Homo sapiens: one gene and its partners. The protein of the gene in region 1 purifies or fractionates together with the protein of each later gene. This does not show direct contact. Each region holds a gene or a part of one and is shown in the gene's direction. Other genes may lie near its edges.

Evidence for each region. Proteins that work in one complex are often made in the same cells at the same time.
Region 2: the proteins of PRSS35 (region 1) and ALDH1L1 purify together in Homo sapiens (co-immunoprecipitation; one large-scale study listed by IntAct). This does not show direct contact.
Region 3: the proteins of PRSS35 (region 1) and MTFMT purify together in Homo sapiens (affinity purification with mass spectrometry; one large-scale study listed by BioGRID and IntAct). This does not show direct contact.
Region 4: the proteins of PRSS35 (region 1) and LYPLA1 purify together in Homo sapiens (co-immunoprecipitation; one large-scale study listed by IntAct). This does not show direct contact.

The regions. Positions count from the first base shown.
Region 1 is NC_000006.12:83,510,672-83,515,833, forward strand, and holds the start of PRSS35 (inactive serine protease 35 precursor), read left to right. Parts: upstream 1-1,862; 5' UTR 1,863-2,023; intron 2,024-5,162.
Region 2 is NC_000003.12:126,152,611-126,157,002, reverse strand, and holds part of ALDH1L1 (cytosolic 10-formyltetrahydrofolate dehydrogenase), read left to right. Parts: intron 1-1,499; coding exon 1,500-1,601; intron 1,602-2,359; coding exon 2,360-2,449; intron 2,450-3,421; coding exon 3,422-3,559; intron 3,560-4,392. UniProt on the Homo sapiens protein: Cytosolic 10-formyltetrahydrofolate dehydrogenase that catalyzes the NADP(+)-dependent conversion of 10-formyltetrahydrofolate to tetrahydrofolate and carbon dioxide.
Region 3 is NC_000015.10:65,026,364-65,031,466, reverse strand, and holds the start of MTFMT (methionyl-tRNA formyltransferase, mitochondrial), read left to right. Parts: upstream 1-1,827; 5' UTR 1,828-1,853; coding exon 1,854-2,062; coding exon of another isoform or gene 2,063-2,215; intron 2,216-4,426; coding exon 4,427-4,636; intron 4,637-5,103. UniProt on the Homo sapiens protein: Methionyl-tRNA formyltransferase that formylates methionyl-tRNA in mitochondria and is crucial for translation initiation.
Region 4 is NC_000008.11:54,045,391-54,050,363, reverse strand, and holds the end of LYPLA1 (acyl-protein thioesterase 1), read left to right. Parts: exon of another isoform or gene 1-1,110; intron 1,111-2,245; coding exon 2,246-2,299; 3' UTR 2,300-3,997; downstream 3,998-4,973. UniProt on the Homo sapiens protein: Acts as an acyl-protein thioesterase. Hydrolyzes fatty acids from S-acylated cysteine residues in proteins such as trimeric G alpha proteins or HRAS.

The DNA.
Region 1 (5,162 bases):
GAAATAGTAAATACGAAGCATCAGGACCAGATGAAGTAAAGCGATAAATTTTGAAAACAGTCAAATTAATGATAAGACAACCTGGAATAGATCCAGAAATAGGGTACAAAAGGGCTTGGGGTCAAAGGCTCAAGAAGGGGGGCATGAAAATGAAAGAGCCCTGGAAGTTTGCTTTCTGTGATGCTAGTGGAGAATGCTGAATAAAGTGAAGGAAGCAGACCTGGGTCCACAGTGAATCCTTCTGGATTTATACAGTGTTAGAATCCCAAAAATGTTTGAGAGCTGCAGGCCTTGGAACTCCTCCAGCTCAACCATCTCAATTTACAGATGAAAAAGCGGAGGCCCAGGGCACACAGCTATTTAGTGTCAGGCGGAATTCCCATTCTGAGTTCTGGACTTTCTCTGTGACTTCTCCACACTCCATCTGACTAGCAAACTTTTTAGTTCCACGTCTAATGCAGCAGCTACTATATGCCAGGCCCTGTGGTAGATGGTGGTGATTCAAAGATGCATATGACTATTATGATCTAATTGGTGACAGAGAGCTTCAGAACTAATTCTAACTGGTAAAAATTACCAATAGATTTTAATATATGGGTAAATGCTTATGTTAACAATGCTAAATGAGAAAACAGCAATGAAATTGTATATATAGTTGGCCCTTGGACACATATTTGAACTGCACAGGTCCACTTATACACAGATTTTTTTTTTCACCCAAAAGCGGATAGAAAACAGTATTTTCAGGCAGAAATGCTTAAACAGAGGGCAGACTTTTCCTATACGCGGGTTCCCCAGGGCCCACAGCTGGACTTGGACTTGAATATGGGATGATTTTAGTATGGGGGGGCGGAGGGGAAGAGGGCCTGGAACTAGTCCGTTGAGTATAACGAGGGACAATGCTAAGTATGTTATAATCTCATTAAAAGTACACAGAACTTGAGATACGCAATAACCTACTAACGAACCAAGTGTTACAAGACATGCTAAGACCTTGTGTTGTAAGTACTTGTGCACTTACTCGATCTCCCTGCTTTAGGGCCAGGACCGAGTTTTTTTGTTTTTGTTTTTGTTTTTGTTTATGTATTCTCTCGTTGTATCAGTTCATCTTGCCCCAGACCTGTCACCCACTAGAATTTGTTGTTAAACAAATGAAGCTTCCTTTCTCATGTGGCCCCCACCCCTCTCCTAAAGGAGAATAAAAGGTCGAGAGAACGGATGAGGTTAGAATGCTGGTGGGACTGAGATGGGAAAGGACCTTAAAGGTTACTCGCCCAAAGAGGAAAACCAGCCTTTTCCCTGCAGACGGAAACTGACGCGCTCCCCCTGGAGGCAGCGCAGGATGCTCCCGGGGGTCCAGGCGTCCCAGCCTGAGGTCCCCATCCTCGTGTGCAGCCTGGGCGCCTGGTACAAGTCGGGGTAACCCTGAGGCTTGTGCATCCAGAGAAGCTAGGTCCCCGGTGGAGACTAGCTTGGGATAAGGTTGGGGAGACGCCCTCCGTTCTTCTAGATGCCTGGGGTCTCAACAGCAAGCAGTGAGGAATGAGACTCTTAACTGAACAACTCCTGAGACTGTTAAAGGAGTGCATACTATTACAGGGACAGGCATCCCCTGTGAACCTACTCATGAATTTTTCCTAATGCTTAATTCAGCTTGGGGGCAGAAATGCTGGGGTGAGACACGGCCAGGTCCGCCCCGTTCCTCCAGGGAACTCCCCTCTCCGCCCTCCCTCTCCGTCTCCTCTTGCCCACCTCCTCCTCCTCCCCTCCCCCCACTCCATCCCACCGCGCCCGCCCCTCGTCATCGCCCCCTTTCCCCTCCCATCTCCCGGCCGTGGTGCGGCGCAGCTCTCTCCCCCTCCGCAGTCTCAGTGGCGAGCTCTGGGTGCTGTGGCCCGGCCTTGGCGGGGCGGCCTCCGGCTCAGGCTGGCTGAGAGGCTCCCAGCTGCAGCGTCCCCGCCCGCCTCCTCGGGAGCTCTGATCTCAGCTGACAGTGCCCTCGGGGACCAAACAAGCCTGGCAGGTAAAGATGAAGCTCCCCAAACCCAACAACCTTAGAACTTAGAAATTTCCCTGAGAAAGGCAGGACCTACCCGAGGAGAGCTTCTTTGAAGGACTTTGAAGAAAGGGATCAAACTTGACACTTTCTTTCAGTCCTCAAAGAAACTAACCACCCTTCCCATAGGCAATTCTGTGTGCCGGCCTCTGCACAGTTTAATATTAACGACAACAATGTTTGCATTGGAATATAAATGGAATTCTTTCTGCTTAAGCAGTACCAGAGGGGACCCTCTTTATTTTTATGATTGTTAACAGATGCCATTGAGAAAGGTATGAAACGCATTCCTGAAAAGTCTCTTTGGCGGGGTTACTATGAAAGCTAGCCTCTCCCCTCTACCCTTTTATCAACTTGGCTGCGGAGGTCAGCAAAAGGAGCATAGGAAAACGTTTAGAAAATGAGGCGGCGAAATGAAGTAGAAAAGCTTTTGACTTGCTTTGAAATACTCTAGCTGAAAAAAAAAAGTGTGTGGGGTGGTGATGGTGGATGAAACATTGGCAAAATATTGACAATAGTTGAAGCTGGTGATGTGCACATGGGGGTTGTACTTTTCTCTCAACTTAATACTTTTCTCTGTGCTTTTGTGTAGTCTTGAAATTTTCTATAATAAAAGGTTTTTTAAAAAGTTGTAGAAACACTCCCGCTTGATTGCTCTGACATTTTTACACTGTCCTTGATTTGAAAAGAAGCTGCTTGCTGTGTCTAGGGGGCTTTCACCCCTTATTAACCCTTCTGACTTCTGAAATTCATTCTTATTTTATCCGAAGTACATTTGTCTCCACAGAGGATTATAAAAGTCATATTTTGCTGGCTGGAGAATTATACTTAGAATCTGGTTTATAATTTAGAAGAGAGAATGTTAAAATCCCTGCCAAATAAGACATGTAGGCTTGAAGGTAGAGGCCAAGTATCATATGGAATTTTATTTTTATTAGGAAATATTAGAGGAGTTCCTTTAGTGAGGGAAGTGGTAGATGTGGATACTGTACCCCATTTTTCTTCCAGATAGCTGGGAAAACTGCATGCTTTTAAGAAGCTTTTTCACGTTTTAAAATGTGAGACTGTTTAGCATATACTTGGCATACAGTATGTGTTCATTAGATGTTAAAATAAGCAATTGCTAGTGTGAGTTAATTTTCTCCATTGGGTAAATGATTTTCCTCTGCCCAATGCTCAAATATCAAACAAGCATATTGCATTTTAACAGTAGGATCAGACTCAGAATTTGGGAGGATAGAGCTACTTTACCTTAGCACTGAGGTAACTTTGCAGATGAGAAATCTGAGATGGAGAGGTTAGGAAACAGTAAAGTTAAGTTAGTAGTATGCAAGCTATTATTTTATAACTAAAAAACGTTAAGCTTCGTATAGGTAAAACTGATGTGGGTTAGCTAAAAACATTGTGACCATAGATGCTTTAAAACCTGAAAAGTAGCATACCTATTTATAGATATTCTTTGCTCTCAAAGGCCAACTTGAAAAATACAGATAAGTCTAGAGCTATATGCTGTGCACTTCATAAGGCAGCATATGAAAGAGTCCTCTTGGGGTTCCTTTAATGTCATTCACCCAAAATTTGATTTATCCATAGGATTGCACAAATTGAGATGTACAGGTCATGGAAAAATAGCCCCCAAACAAAGGGAGGTTTTGTTTTTTATTGTGATGAGAAACAGAAGTTGTGGGTTACTGTAAAATAATCAACTGTGTAACTTTACCATCTTCCTTTCCCTCAAGTACTGCCAAACTTTTTAAGCAGACATTTTTTTGGTCTCCATTTATGAAACTAAACTTGAAAATAGTGCTATGGTATGATATTTTGAATAGAAATTGGCCCACTGTCAATGAACTTTCTTGCCATTTATTCTCAGCCTAGAATCAGTGGAGAGCTTATCCTTTAGTAATGGATTATAAAGTATTTGATAAACGTGAAATATTTGGCAGGTTCAAGATTTTCCTTAGCATTGAAATAAATTGTGGCACATTTGGGGGACTAGTTAACAGTGCTGTAGGTCATGCTGGAAGTGTGCTGGCACTACAACTGTTTTTGAAAAACTATCTGCCAGAAAATTGTCTGACTGTAGACAGCATTATCAGCCCTCAGTTCATCAGGATGGGCTCTGTGGCCTGTAGGTAGGTGGGTTTTCTAAATATAATAAATTTCATATGTCTCCCTATGTCACAGCCATTTAGTATATTATTAGCCAGTTAAAAGTTTTGCCCCTGCTGAATCTTACATGCTTTTAAAATAAAATCTATTTCACAGCTGAGTAAGTGTAAACATTTTAAATACCTGCGTTAGATTTGCCATCACCAGGCTAATTTTGCCATCTAGTGGTAGCAACATGGATAACAGGCAAGTTCTTCCCTGGATGACTAGGAATTGAACCTTCCTGAGAAGCATTGATGAGTAAATTACTTGTGTTTTCTCATTTGTGGTTTACTCTAGAACTTTAAAGCTGGAAGAAATCTTAGAAATGTTCTAGTCCAACTCAACAGTTAAGGACTATCAGAGAGATTCTTTAAAATAAAGGCTTCGAAATGCATGGCGGAGTTAGCAGGTGGTATGCATTTGTTGAATAGACAAATTTATCTATCCTGTTCTAATTCTTGTTTTTCCTCTAGCAATATTGCATCCTACCACTATGAAGTTTTATCGTGATCTTCTGTTTTTAGTTTTAAAATTGCATTTCTGTATATTATTTCTTAAAATAACACATTTTCATTTATATTTTAAGTCCCAGAAGGAAACATTCTTTTCTACTGTTTTTGTTTGTTTGCTTTGAGACAGGGTTGCCCTGTCTCATTCTAGTTGTCCAGGCTGGAGTGTAGTGACACAATCACAGCTCACTGCAGCGTCCACCTCCCAGCTTAGGTGATCCTCCCAACTCAGCCCAGAGTAGCTGGGACCACAGGCATGCGCCACCACACTTGTAGAGACAGGGTCTCCCTATGTTGCCCAGGCTACTCTCAAACTCCTGGACTCAAGTGATCCTCCCATCCCAGCCTCCCAAAGTGCTAGGATTACAGGTGTGAGGCACCGCGCCCGGCCCTTTTCTACTTTTTAATCACTCCCTACTACTACTACTTCTCTTTTCTTTTTT
Region 2 (4,392 bases), on another chromosome or scaffold:
TCTATTTCTCTCTCCTTCACTCGTTGATTCTCCTTTTCTCTGTGTGATTTGTTTCATTCTCAGTTTGGCTGCCCTGAATTAGAGGAAAGATAGCCACTATAGCTCAAGGATTCTAATTCTTGATTCCAGGGAAAGAGAAACACTTTTTCTCCTAGAATTCATCAATCACAAATCAGGGGAGATTCTGATTGGCCAGCTTGGGGGTCATGTGATCCTCATGAGCCAATCACCAGCTGGGGTGATGGAGTGCTCTGATAGGCTGTCTCCGTCACATGCTTCCTGCTGGGAAGGCCGTGACCTGTGGTCACATGGCCTGAGCGGCAGGGCGGCTCAGTCACCTGGGCAGCTGGTACTGCTGAGAGGCAGGGTGGCAGGCTATGGGCCGGAGCCCACAGCTGCAGGAGGGGCCCGGGGATCATATGTGAGGGCTGCTTGCCCCTGCCCGAGGACAGGCTGGCAGGGACGGCCACAGGCAGAGGTGCTGTCCAGGCATGCAGCAGGAGGGAAGGAGGCCCTGGGGAGCCCTTGCTGTTTGGGCGCAGCAGGAAGAGCAGCTGCAGTGTCCACTGTCCCCTCGTCCTCCTCAGCTCCTGGCCACTGCCTTTTATTTTTCGGTTGTGTTAAACTTGTCTTCCCCACAGATTGACCAGCTCACAAAAATAGTGAACAAAGTAGAGTTGCTGGAGATTTAGTGGTACAGAGAGGGAGCTTACCTGTGCTTCCCACGGCAAGCAACTCAAATACTCCTTGAAGCTGCACTGTCCAACAAGGCAGCCACTGGTAACATGCAGCTATTAAATCAATTAAAATGAATTATACTGAAAAATTCAGTTCCTCAGTCTCAGCCACATTCTAAGTCCCCTGGCCACCGTGTTGGACCGTGCAGACTTGGAACTCATCCATCACCACAGAGGGCTCCATTGGGCAGCCCTGCCTCAGATGCTCTGACACCCGGTCACTTCCCATTCTTGGCACCTCCCGGTCTCTTCCCTCAGGCTCTTGCTCACGTGGGCCCAGACTCCTTGGCTCTCCTTCTCCCTCTCTGATTCCTTTCCCACCACCTTCCTCTTTCCTGTCACAGAGAAACAACTTCCTGCTTCATCTCAGACCTCCAAACTTCCACCTTCAAGCCCACCACGGGGCTCAGGACCCACTCTCTTTAAAGGCAGAGAAGGCTTAGACAGCAACATGGACATTTGTGTCTGTGTTATACCTGCAGGGCTTTACAGTTTATATAATCATCTAAGATATCAGAAGATGTAAGATCTATGTAATCTAAACCTTTGCCAGGTAGAGAGGACGGGTCTGTGTCCGTTGTGCAATAGAAGTTAGGTTCACGCTGACTCCCTTGTTCATATGGCAGGTGTTTCTTGGGTGACTGCTGTGTACCAGGCAAGTCTGGTCAGTCTGGGGAAGGGTCCAGGCTCAATGTGGGCCCTGGGGCTGGGAAGGAGGCAGGGTCCTATTGCTGGGGATAGCAACCCACTGGATCTCCCCAGGTGCAGGCCGTGAGGCTGATCGCTGAGGGCAAAGCCCCCAGACTCCCTCAGCCTGAGGAAGGAGCCACCTATGAGGGGATTCAGAAGAAGGAGACAGCCAAGGTGAGTGCTGGGTCCCTCCACACCCTCATCCTGCCTGTGAGCAGACTGGGGTTGTAGAGGGCAGCCTGAGGAGGCTGGGGTTCAGCCCAGATGGTGCAGGTTGTAATTCTTTGAGGCCAGAACACAGGGCAGCCCAGGTCAGGGATGCATGAAGAGAGCCGTGGAGGAGGAGGACCCTGGCACCTGGGAGGGTAGCGAACAGGGTCCATTCCAGGTTCTTTCCTGTTCCTCTTTAGGAGGAATGGGCAGACAAAGCCCACAGGGAGATAAGAGTGGGAGTTAGGGGGCAAAACGTCAGCCGTAGTGCGAGCAGTCTTCAAGGCAAGGTGTGAGGGACAGTGCGGGTCTCTGGAGCAATAGCCAGTGGAGGAGCCTCAGAAGCCTGTAGGCTGTGTCTCAGCTCAGGAGTATGGGTTGCTGTGTGGGGACCCACAGGGGCCCTGCCAGTGAAAGGTTGGGCCCTATGGGACGGGCCTGAGTACATTGTGCTGGGGCCTCTGTGTAGGGTCTGGGCCATCTTGACAGCAACAGAACATTATCTTCCCCAAACCATTCTGAAGTCTGCTCAGCCCATGAGAGACTGAGGGTCAGAGAGCACCCAGAACTAGGGGCACCAGCTCAGGGACTCCTGCAAGTGTCTAAGAGGAAGCTGGGGTTACCAGCTGTCTCACAAGAGCTTGGTCCACTGTCCAGATGTCATCAGGGTGGGAGGGGAGTGAGGAGAGACCAGCTGAGCACACACACCTTGCTCCCCACAGATCAACTGGGACCAGCCGGCAGAGGCCATTCACAACTGGATCCGCGGGAACGACAAGGTGCCGGGAGCCTGGACAGAGGCCTGTGAACAGGTGTGTCCCTGCATGGCTGGAATCCAGCCACGTGCATTGGTGTATCCCACTGGCCATTAAACTGTCACACATGTTTGAACTGGTTGGTATAATAAATAGCTACTGCCCTGGCCCCTACTCCCACTGGGTGCCCCCTAAACATCCCAGCCTTTCCCCAGGAGTGAGAGACCTACCCAGCCTGCAGTAGCTAAAGGATAGATGTCCTGCGTAGCTGGAGGCCTCCAGGCCCTTGTAGTGCCCCTGGGGCCCAGCTGTATTGGTGGTGAAATATTTTGAGTCTCACCACTGGGCTTGCGGAGACCCCAGGCCCAGTACTCACTCTGACTTGGCCTCAGGCAGGGTGGAGCAGCACATTCAGGGCCAGGCTGACCGTGGGCAGGCCAGATGCTGAAGATGGGGAGACTTGGGGGTCACAGGCTCTAGTGAGGCATCAGGGGTGGCGGGACTGTGTGTGGTGGACTTTGTGCAAACCTTGAGGGCAGTCTTGTCCCCCACACAGTCTCAGACTCTCCAGACCCCTGACCCCCAGCCGACTGCCCAGACTGTGGCCAGAAGCCTCTCTGCTGTCCTCATCAACGCAGAGCCCTTTGTACTAGCAAATGCATCTTCTGATCAAAGCAACCACTCCTTGGCAGCACCCTGAAGGCAGGTAGCCTCATTCCGTGATGCCTGGAGCACATTCTCCCCCAGTCTGTGCACCTCAGGTCTGAGGCCATGGGCCAAGGAGAAGGGTCTTATGGCAGAGTTGAGGCAGACCTGCCATCAGCTCCCTGAGGCCACTGAGGCTCCTCCAGGTCTTGTTTGTGCCCCAGGAGAAAGGGCCTCAGGGGTCACATGGGCTTTGAGCCGGCTCCCAGGTCTCAGCTACCCCTGGCCCCTCTCCCTCTCCCAGCCCTGCTCAGACCTGCCTGGGCTACTGGCTTCGGGGGCTTCTTCTCACCCACCATCTTCTGATATTTCTCCCCTTGACAGAAACTGACATTTTTCAACTCAACGCTGAACACTTCAGGCCTGGTGCCCGAGGGAGACGCTTTGCCCATCCCAGGAGCCCATCGGCCAGGGGTGGTCACCAAAGCAGGACTCATCCTCTTTGGGAATGATGACAAAATGGTAAGGGCACGGCTGTGGGTCACTTGCCTGCTCAAAGCCACCCATGCTCCTGTCCTTGGACTCAGGCCTCACAGGAAGACCCTAGGCTCCTCTGGAGAAAATGGAAAAAACCAGACCCAGGAAGGAACACTGACCCTGATTTGTCCCTGACCACCCGGCTGGTCCTGAGCACAGGGTGTCCGAGGCAGTTTACCCACTTCTCTGTTCTGGGAAAGCTGGGCTCCCTACCCTTCCTGGCTAGGCACCCATCTCCAGGCTGAGTGCCCTGTGTGGGTGTCAGGCAACCTAGAATCAGAGAGAAGCCCTCCCAGGGAGCCTGGGTTCAGGGCCTCTCTTTGGTCTATCAGAAACACCTCTGGGTGTGGGGTCATTAAGCCTCTGTGCCTCAGCTCCCATCTCTTTGAACGGCGATGCCATGGTAACTTAGCACGTGCAGAGCCTTGGGAGCCATGCCGGCCACCTGCTCTTGTTATTAGCAGACTACAACTCACGGTACCAGCAAACACTGATGGAGCACCTTTTATACCAGAACAATGTATATGCGTTAAATTTAATCTGCCTAACAACACTATGAGATATGTATAAATATTATATCCTTATAGAGGAAAAAAACAGAGATTTAAATAACTTGTCCAGGATCATCCAAGCTAGCCCGTGGCAGAGCTGGGATTCAGACTCTGAAATTCTGGCTCCAAAGCCGTGATGCTGGTCTTGGCCATGGTAGCTTCCTGTTCATATGCACTCTACTACTCCTTCTCACATGAGCAGCCGGGGGTAGGGAGAGGGCAGGCAGGGATCTTCCCACACACTGACAGGGTCCGGACAAACCCCAT
Region 3 (5,103 bases), on another chromosome or scaffold:
GAGGCAGCAGAATCGCTTGCACAGGGGAGGTGGAGGGTGCAGTGAGCCAAGATCACACCACTGCACTCCAGCCTGGGTGACAGAGTGAGACTCTGTCTCAAAAACAAAAACAAAAACAACAGCAACAACAAAAAAAAACAGGGGCACATGGAGAAAGACAAGAAATCTAAGGAGGCAAGAGCTTGAAGCTTCAGGGCGAATGTCTGAACTTCGTGTTGAAGAATGGATACCATTTAGAGATGAAGAGATGTGGGAAGGCAGTCTAGGAAGGGAGCATGAGCAAAGGCACAGGAGCAGGGATGTGCAGAGCTCATAATTTAGGAAAAAGGACTGGTCCAGGGTCACTGGGTTTAAGACTGTGTGATGGGAAAAGGTGGTGAGACGGCAGGGCGCAGTGGCTCATGCCTGTAATCCTAGCACTTTGGGGGGCCAAGGCAGGCAGATCACCTGAGGTCAGGAGTTCAAGACCAGCCTGGTCAACATAGTGAATCCCATCTCTACTAAAAATACAAAAATTAGCTAGGTGTAGTGGCGCATGTCCCAGCTACTTGGGAGGCTGAGGCAGGAGAATCGCCTGAACCTGGGAAGCAGCGGTTGCAGTGAGCCAAGATCGCCCGCCACTGCCCTCCAGCCTGAAAAACAGAGCGAGACTCCATCTCAAAAAAAAAAAAAAAAAAAAAAAAAATGGTGGTGAGAATAAGATTAGAACAAAATTCGGTTTCAGTCTCTGCTCAGATCCTGTTTCATGGATGTCTGACTCCACTCAAGGAGGCTTTGGGGATACAGAATCTAAGCACTAACGGTCCTCGGAGGTCTTCTGGGGATAAGGTTCCCTGTCCATTTCCCTAGGAATCACCTCTATGGTATCCTTCTGTGTGCAAAGGAACCCACAGGGGAGGAGTAAAGATGGAGCCTTCGATTCAAGAAAGTAACTGCAGACAAGTAACTAAGGCTCAGTTTCCTCAGGTGCAAAATGTGGGTAATTGACTTGCCTAATACATAGGATCGCTGAGAAGGCCCAACGGCTAGGATTACAAGCGTTGGAATTACAAGAGTCCCACCTCTGCTCTGTCCTTTACTAGCTGTGTGGACCTTATACACTGGTAAGTCCTTAATTTCACGGAGCTTCAGTTTCTCTTCAGTAACATATTTGTAATAGTATCTACCTCCTAAGGTTGATCTGATGATTAACCAGAATAATGAATATAAAATGCTTAGCAAAAACGTGGCACGGAGTGAAGTACTCAGCAAATATTGGTTATAATGGTTGAGGAAATGACATGCACTATATACATGAGGTTTCATTGTCTGAAAACATGCACGATTTGTTACCAAAAGACTTATCCTGGGCCGGCGCAGTGGCTCACGCCTGTAACCCCAGCACTTGGGGAGGCCAAGGCAGGAGGATTGCTTGAGACCTGGGCAACATAGTGAGATACTCTCTCTACAAAAAATCAGCCCAGCATGGTGATGTGTGCCTGTACCCCAGCTACTCCGGAGGCTGAGGTGGGAGGATCCCTTGAGCCCAGGAGCAGTGAGGTTGCAGTAAGCAGAGATCGCGCCACAGCACTCCAGCCTGCGCGACAGAGCAAGACCCTTTCTGAAATAAATAAATAAATAAATAAATAAATAAATAAAGCGATTTTAAAAAGAAAAGAAAGACTTATTCTGGAGGATTGGCTACATAGTGCAAATAAACAGAACAAAAATCTAGGGCCGCTGTAGCGGGCAAATTCGTTCACCAACTCCAACCAGACCCCGCCTCCAAGCAGGCAAGCCCCGCCCTCCCCAGGCTGCACCCTTGTCCCCGCCCCGATGCGCCTGCGCAGGGCCGGCCGCCGGCGGCCGAGGCGATGAGGGTGTTGGTGCGGCGCTGTTGGGGTCCTCCGCTGGCTCATGGCGCCAGGCGTGGGAGGCCGAGTCCCCAGTGGCGAGCACTGGCCCGACTCGGCTGGGAGGACTGCCGGGACTCCAGAGTCCGCGAGAAGCCTCCCTGGCGGGTGCTCTTCTTCGGCACGGACCAGTTCGCCCGCGAGGCGCTGCGGGCGCTGCACGCCGCCAGGTACCCGGGCCAGGGATCCGGGGACCCGGCCGCTGAAGGCCTCCAGGCCGCGCCCGGGCGGCCGGCCCCGAGGGTTTTGGACTTCTGGTTGCGGAAAGCATGGGCGGCAGAGCGGTGTGGGCCCAGATCTCGGCGTCTTCTGGCTCCCAGAAGGTGCGCCATTCCCGCCGGTCAGCCTTTGGGCGCCTAGTACCTGCGGTCTGCGCCCCTCACTCCCCGCCGCCTCTGTGGGTTCTCCAGGCGCCCTGCCACCCACGCTGTGCCGAGCTGGGGCTGGGCGCTCTGCCTGCATCCCCCGGGCCAGTCCCACGGCCTCCCTGCCCGTTTTGAGTGTGGGGAATCCGTGGCTCAGAGAGGTTATGCGATTGCCCAAGGTCATCAGCCGAGGTGGTTCGGACTAAAACCAGGTCCCACTTCAAAGTTCCCTGCTTTGCAGTTCCTCCTGACCCCCATCCTTCGGCACACCCGTGTCTCGCTCTTTTGCTCCCCCTGTGCTCCTTGTATACAAGGACATAGTCCAAAAACGACCTGTTTTCAAAAGAATAAATTTATAAATCAGAACTGTTAGGTATACATTTAGTATTCATAATATTTAACAAGTTTTGTTTACTGGGAAAGAAAATTATTTGAAATCCAACCAGTCCTGAGAGTCCATGGTATGTGGTGGCAATACCGTATATACTTCTCTGCCTCTTTTTCCCAATTAATGTTTTTTATTTCCCCATTCTGTTTTTTTCTGACGCAGTCCTCCTTCCACTTTTTTTGGTCATCTCCATCTCCTTTTCCCTACAGATACTTCACAGCAGCCCCTCATGTATTGAATCCTTCGTCAATCCCCTGTGTGGTTTTCCTTCCTCCACACACCCCTCTGTGCACACACCCGGAAGGAAACCCCATGTTCCCTTTGCACACCCTTCATGGGCTGCTGTTGTCACATGCGTCTCTCACTGCATTTATACATTTATACCAACACTTTTTTTGTTTGTTTCTGAGGCGAGGTCTCGCGCTGTCCCCCAGGCTGGAGTGCAGTGGCCGGCTCATAGCTCACTGCAGCCTCGACCTCAAAGATCAAGCAATCATCCCATCTCAGCTTCCAGAGTAGCTAGGACTACGGGCGTGCACCACCACGCCTGATTTTTAAATTTTTTGTAGAGGCGGGTTTTCACCATGTTGCCCAGGCTTATCTCAAACTCCTGGGATCAAGTGATCCTCTCACCTTGGCCTCCCAAAGTGCTGAGATTACAGGCCTGAGCCATCATTCCTGGCCTATCCTGATACTTCTGATGATGCTTCACTTGGCAGCTCCATTACTCCTGTGCTTTCTTTATAGTGCCCCAGGACATACTCCTCATAACTCCTCAACGTGTACATACAATACCTGTTTAATAAATGTACCCCCCTGGGTACTAGAATGCTATGCAGCAGGTAGAAAGGATGAGGTAGTGCTACAGGTACTGCCATGGAATGATAGCCATGTTATGTATTTTTGTTTGTTTTTTAAAAAGTAGTGTTTGAATGGCATCATGGTTATGGTAAAAAAGTTCCATGGATTCAAAGGATATACAGTGAAAAGTTACTTCCTTCCACCTCTGTTTAGCAGTTCCCAGTTCCTTTATCCAGAGACAGCCACTGTTTTCAGTTCCTTCTAGAAATGTTCAGTGAATATACAAATATACGTATATTTAACCCATTTTTCAAAAAGACACATAATAGCATATATAGCATTGTTAAAAGGAAAAAAAATGCAAAGCAGTATGTAATATCCCAGTTGTGTAAAGTATCCATACTGTATATGTTTCTGTATGCACAGGAAATCCCTAGAATGATACTGTTCAAACAGTAGCCACTAGCCACGTGTCACTCTTTACATTTTAAATAATTAAAATTAAATAAAAAATGAAAACTGAGGCTGGGCACGGTGTTCACGCCTGTAATCCCAGCACTTTGGGAGGTGGAGGCGGACGGATCACTTGAGGTCAGGAGTTGGAGACCAGCCTGGCCAACATGGGGAAACCCTGCCTCCACTAAAAAACACAAAAATTAGCTGGGTGTGGTGGTGCATGCCTGTAATCCCAGCTATTCGGGAGACTGAGGCAGGATAATCGCTTGAACCTAGGGGGCAGAGGTTGCAGTGAGCTGAGATCGCTCCACTGCACTCCAGCCTGGGTGACAGAGTGAGACTCCAGCTCAAAAAAAAAAAAAGAAAAAGAAAAAATGAAAACTCAGTCTCTCACACTAGTTTTAATCATTTAGCCCTAAATGCTTCATGAGATTAATCATAAACATACTTAGCGATATGTGAAGTAGTTTTAGCTTTGAGTCATTGCCTTAACACTGTCACATTTTTCTTCCTATCTAATTTAGGGAAAACAAAGAAGAAGAGTTAATCGACAAACTGGAGGTGGTCACAATGCCTTCCCCATCACCAAAAGGACTGCCAGTGAAGCAATATGCTGTGCAGTCTCAGCTTCCCGTATATGAGTGGCCGGATGTGGGATCTGGAGAATATGATGTTGGAGTAGTGGCTTCGTTTGGCCGACTTTTGAATGAGGCTCTTATTCTTAAATTTCCCTAGTAAGTTTTATTTGTAAGGAAATACAGTATAGAAACCTTGGTCTTTATAAATGGACCTTGTATATAAAATGTGATAATTTGAACTCTATGCTTTCTGTAATATTTTCTTTTTTTATTTTTACCATTTTATTTTTCTGTACATGTTTGCTTAAAGTCAATGAATTTCTCTGCCAGGTTCAGGTAACTGAAGGGCCTTTAGAAGTAGTTTATATTGTTTAAACCCAAGGAATGCTGCAAACACAGTCTGGAACACAATAGGAAATAACATCTTTCTAAAGACAGGCTTATAAATTTGAATCCAGTAACTTAAGATGTTCCCTTTCTCTGGTAACAGAGTTGATTCATACCAGGCTGCTAGGCCTCCAGTCACAGGTATAGACAAGAAAAGAGGGTATAGACCACCAAAAGCAAGACCAATCCACTCTGTGTTATGGTACACGTTTCACAATTCAAATCACCTGTATTCG
Region 4 (4,973 bases), on another chromosome or scaffold:
AGACAGGTGATCCAGCAGGATTTAGAGATTAATTATGTGGGGTGTAGTAACCAAGGAAGTATCAAAAGGGCCTGAGATTTCTAGTTCTGATGCCATCATAAAAAGTAGGTGCAAGAAACAGTTTTAGAGTAAAGGAAGGAGATAATACTGAGTTTAATGTATTGAGATCAATGTGCCCCCACAATATCAAAATAGGATATTGGAAATACTTGTCTGAAGTTCAAGCCTGGAAATGGAGATTTGAAATAATTACTAATATAATTGATCAACGAAGAATTATCTTGAGAAAGCATTATAAGAAAAAAAGCTCAGGGATAGAACTTTGGGGGACACATTACAGTTTAGCCTAATGAGAAAAGGAGTTAGGTGTTGAGAGTATGGGTGGAGAGAATTTCAGAGTGGGAAGGAGATGTGTAATGTGTTCCAGAGAAGGATTAAGGAGAAATAGTTTAGGAAGAAAGTACCCAATATTAAGCCACCTGTGACCTTGGATGTTTGGGTAGATAAAGCCAAAATGCAAAGGATTGTATGAAGTGGATAGGGAAATGAGGAAGCAGAGGCAACATGTATAGACCTTTTAAAAAAGTTTTGGTAAACAGGAAGAAGAGTAGGAAATCTGTTCTTCAGTGGGATCAGAGAAAGACCTATGAGTGGAAGGAGGGAGGAAGAAGATGCAGTAAAGAGAAGATAATTGATAGAGGCATTCTCAGAGGGATCATAGAATAGAATTAAGTCCTGAGATGTATAGTGCTTGCCTTAAAAGAGGAGAAAACCATTTTCAATCAAGATAGAAGAGGACAGGCCGGGTGAGGTGGCGGGCACCTGTGGTTCCAATTACTCTAGAGGCTGAGGCGAGAGGATCACTTGATCTCCGGAGGTTGCTGCTGCAGTGAGCCATGTTGGCACCCTGCACTCCAGCCTGAGTGACAGAGTGAGACCCTAAAAAAAAGAAAGAAAGGATGGATGAATATAAACAGGAGATGGAGAGAGAAGAGAGTGCTTGGGAGCTCATATTAGATGTGCTTATCTTTTCAGTCAAGTAGAAGGTGCGATCACTTGATAGAATGAAGGAGGCCGGAGGCCTGGATAGGTCTGGAGGCTTGAGAAGACCTAGAGTAAAAATTGATTCCTAGTGAGATAGTCATACTGACAGTTTTACAACCACTCAGCCTGGGTTAAATAATTTAGGGACGGAGAAAGAGGTGGTAATATGATTTATCCAGAAAGACAAGGGTGCCTGGGAACCTGAACCTAGGGTGTTCTCCTACTGATATAGAGTATTACAGTGTTGAATCCAGAAAAGAGAGGGCAGGGGAAGTCCTGGAACCCTTAATGTGTGCAAGAGGGACTGAAGGTCTCTAGAGCAGCTGTTTTCTTCATGGGCTTTGTATCACAAATACCTTGGAGCTTCATAAAAGCTCTATAGATGAGTCTACAACAACTCTGGGCTGAATGAGGAGGAGCAGAAAATGAGGAGAAGTAGGATAGTGGGAGGTGATCTCACAGGAAACTCTTTGGGACTTCAGAGTATTGTGAAATAGAACACTTTCATGCTGGGGCTCTTTTCTGAGTGACTAAATTACAAGGCTGAAGGTTAGCTGCATTGCTACTATTTGGCACTGTGAGGCTAAGTAAGGCCTTGAAATATAAGAGCTGATAGCAGGAAGTGAGTTTGAGGGAGGTGAGAAAACTGAGCCAAATGCAAGAGGCTAAGAGGAGAAAGTTTCTTCTATGATAAATCTTTGGTATATTAATGTTCATATCTTCCCAGGAACATCTTAGGTACATGCTCTCTATCAAATGGTTAGTTGTATGTAATTCTTTATGAAAGACACAGCATAGTTAATGCTATGGATTTAGCGCATAATTCAGTTTGAAGAATGGTAGAAGCTCTGCTTTGTCACTCATACTTAGTTGTCAGTAATTGTTCACTTACTGAGACTTCTCAGTGTAGGCACCATCGCTTCTAAACTTCCCTGCCCCCCAGTGTCTTATATTGTTCCAGTATAGGAAGATGCAGAACTAGATACTGGATGGGAGCTGTCATTTCAGTGTACAATAATCATGATAGGAAATGTCCTGAAATTTCTGTTGGAGCCTCATTTCTCTTTTGTCTTATTTAATTGTAGTAAAAATGTGATTTCGCCTTTATGCATACCATAGATTTGATTAGTGGCATTTTAGTGGGAATTTAATTTCTGACTTACATAACTACCTACCTATTAAATTACTTTATTCCAAACAGGAAATGATGGATGTCAAGCAATTCATTGATAAACTCCTACCTCCAATTGATTGACGTCACTAAGAGGCCTTGTGTAGAAGTACACCAGCATCATTGTAGTAGAGTGTAAACCTTTTCCCATGCCCAGTCTTCAAATTTCTAATGTTTTGCAGTGTTAAAATGTTTTGCAAATACATGCCAATAACACAGATCAAATAATATCTCCTCATGAGAAATTTATGATCTTTTAAGTTTCTATACATGTATTCTTATAAGACGACCCAGGATCTACTATATTAGAATAGATGAAGCAGGTAGCTTCTTTTTTCTCAAATGTAATTCAGCAAAATAATACAGTACTGCCACCAGATTTTTTATTACATCATTTGAAAATTAGCAGTATGCTTAATGAAAATTTGTTCAGGTATAAATGAGCAGTTAAGATATAAACAATTTATGCATGCTGTGACTTAGTCTATGGATTTATTCCAAAATTGCTTAGTCACCATGCAGTGTCTGTATTTTTATATATGTGTTCATATATACATAATGATTATAATACATAATAAGAATGAGGTGGTATTACATTATTCCTAATAATAGGGATAATGCTGTTTATTGTCAAGAAAAAGTAAAATCGTTCTCTTCAATTAATGGCCCTTTTATTTTGGGACCAGGCTTTTATTTTCCCTGATATTATTTCTATTTAATACTCTTTTCTCTCAAGAAAAAAAAAAAAGTTTGTTTTTTCTTTATTGTCCTTCATAGCAGGCCAAGTATTGCCTCTCTGCAATAGACAGCTACTGTCAATACATGCTGTAATTTGACATTCTGGGTCACAGATATAAGGTATTTAAAATCTATTTATGCTTTATAGAGAAACCAGACATTAAAACTTCATGCACTACTTATTTCGAATTACTGTACCTTATCCAAATTTACACCTAGCTATTAGGATCTTCAACCCAGGTAACAGGAATAATTCTGTGGTTTCATTTTTCTGTAAACAACTGAAAGAATAATTAGATCATATTCTAGTATGTTCTGAAATATCTTTAAGACTGATCTTAAAAACTAACTTCTAAGATGATTTCATCTTCTCATAGTATAGAGTTTACTTTGTACACGTTTGAAACCAACTACTGTAGAAGATGAGGAATCTATTGTAATTTTTTGCTTTATTTTCATCTGCCAGTGGACTTATTTGAAATTTTCACTTTAGTCAAATTATTTTTTGTATTAGTTTTTGATGCAGACATAAAAATAGCAATCATTTTAAATTGTCAAAATTTCCAGATTACTGGTAAAAATTATTTGAAAACAAACTTATGGGTAATAAAGGCTAGTCAGAACCCTATACCATAAAGTGTAGTTACCATACAGATTAATATGTAGCAAAAATGTATGCTTGATATTTCTCAACTGTGTTAATTTTTCTGCTGTATTCCAGCTGACCAAAACAATATTAAGAATGCATCTTTATAAATGGGTGCTAATTGATAATGGAAATAATTTAGTAATGGACTATACAGGATGTTAATAATGAAGCCATATGTTTATGTCTGGATTTAAAAATTTTAAACAATCATTTACTATGTCATTTTTCTTTACCTTGAAGAACATAAACTGTTATTTCACTTCTACAAATCAGCAAGATATTATTTATGGCAAGAAATATTCCATTGAAATATTGTGCTGTAACATGGGAAAGTGTAAATGTTTTTCATGGTTTCTATCAATGTGAAATAAAATTTAATTCTGACTTTTCTGTGACTTTGAGTATTTTAATATTTGGAATGTTAACATTTGGAATGAATGTCTATAATGCAATGGAGGAAAATAACAATGTACTTAAAAGAATATATATTCAGAGAGAGAAATTTTGATGATGGTGTGGTTGACTTAGAATGGAACCAGGCATAAGAAATAATCTCATGTTATTCAGTTTTAATTGGCTAAAAAAAAATTTCCCAAATTTGGTTTTCAATGTTTCTACCTATTTAAGAAGTTTTATTTGGTGTTTATCTTTTGTCTTTTTCTTAACTCTTTTTAAATTTTATTTTATTTTATTTTATTTTTGAGACAGAGTCCCATTCTGTCACCCAGGCTGGGGTGCAGTGGTGCGATCTCGGCTCACTGCAACCTCTGCCTCCCAGGTTCAAGTGATTCTCCTGCCTCAGCCTCCTAAGTAGCTGGGATTACAGGAGCCCACCACCATGCCCAGCTAATTTTTGTATTTTTAGTAGAGACAGGGTTTTGCCACGTTGGCCAAGCTGGTCTCCAACTCCTGACCTCAGGTGATCCACTCGCTTCAGCCTCCCAAAGTGCTGGGATTATAGGCGTGAGCCACTGTGCCCGGTCTTTTTCTTTAATGTAGTATTCACTGGGTTTTTTAAATTAGTGTCATAAGTCAGTTATCCAAGTAGTTTTTCTCCTTTATTTCAACATTGACTTCTGACTTTTCCGAATATAGGAATTCCTTCTGTCCTGTTAAGCAGTCCTTCGCTTTCTGCTTTTGGATACTTAAGTGACCACCTCACTTTTTTGTGATGCAGCTTGTTCAATTTTTGGATAGTTCTCGTGGTAAGAAAATTCTGGACCAAATATGTTGTCTCTAACTTCAGTTCGTTTTATAAAATGTTTATCTTTCACATCAGCACTGTATTTCATATGATAATCTTTAGTTCATGATCCTTTTAAAAATAATTTTGTTAACTACTAAATGTGGTCAGAGCTTGGTACTGACTGT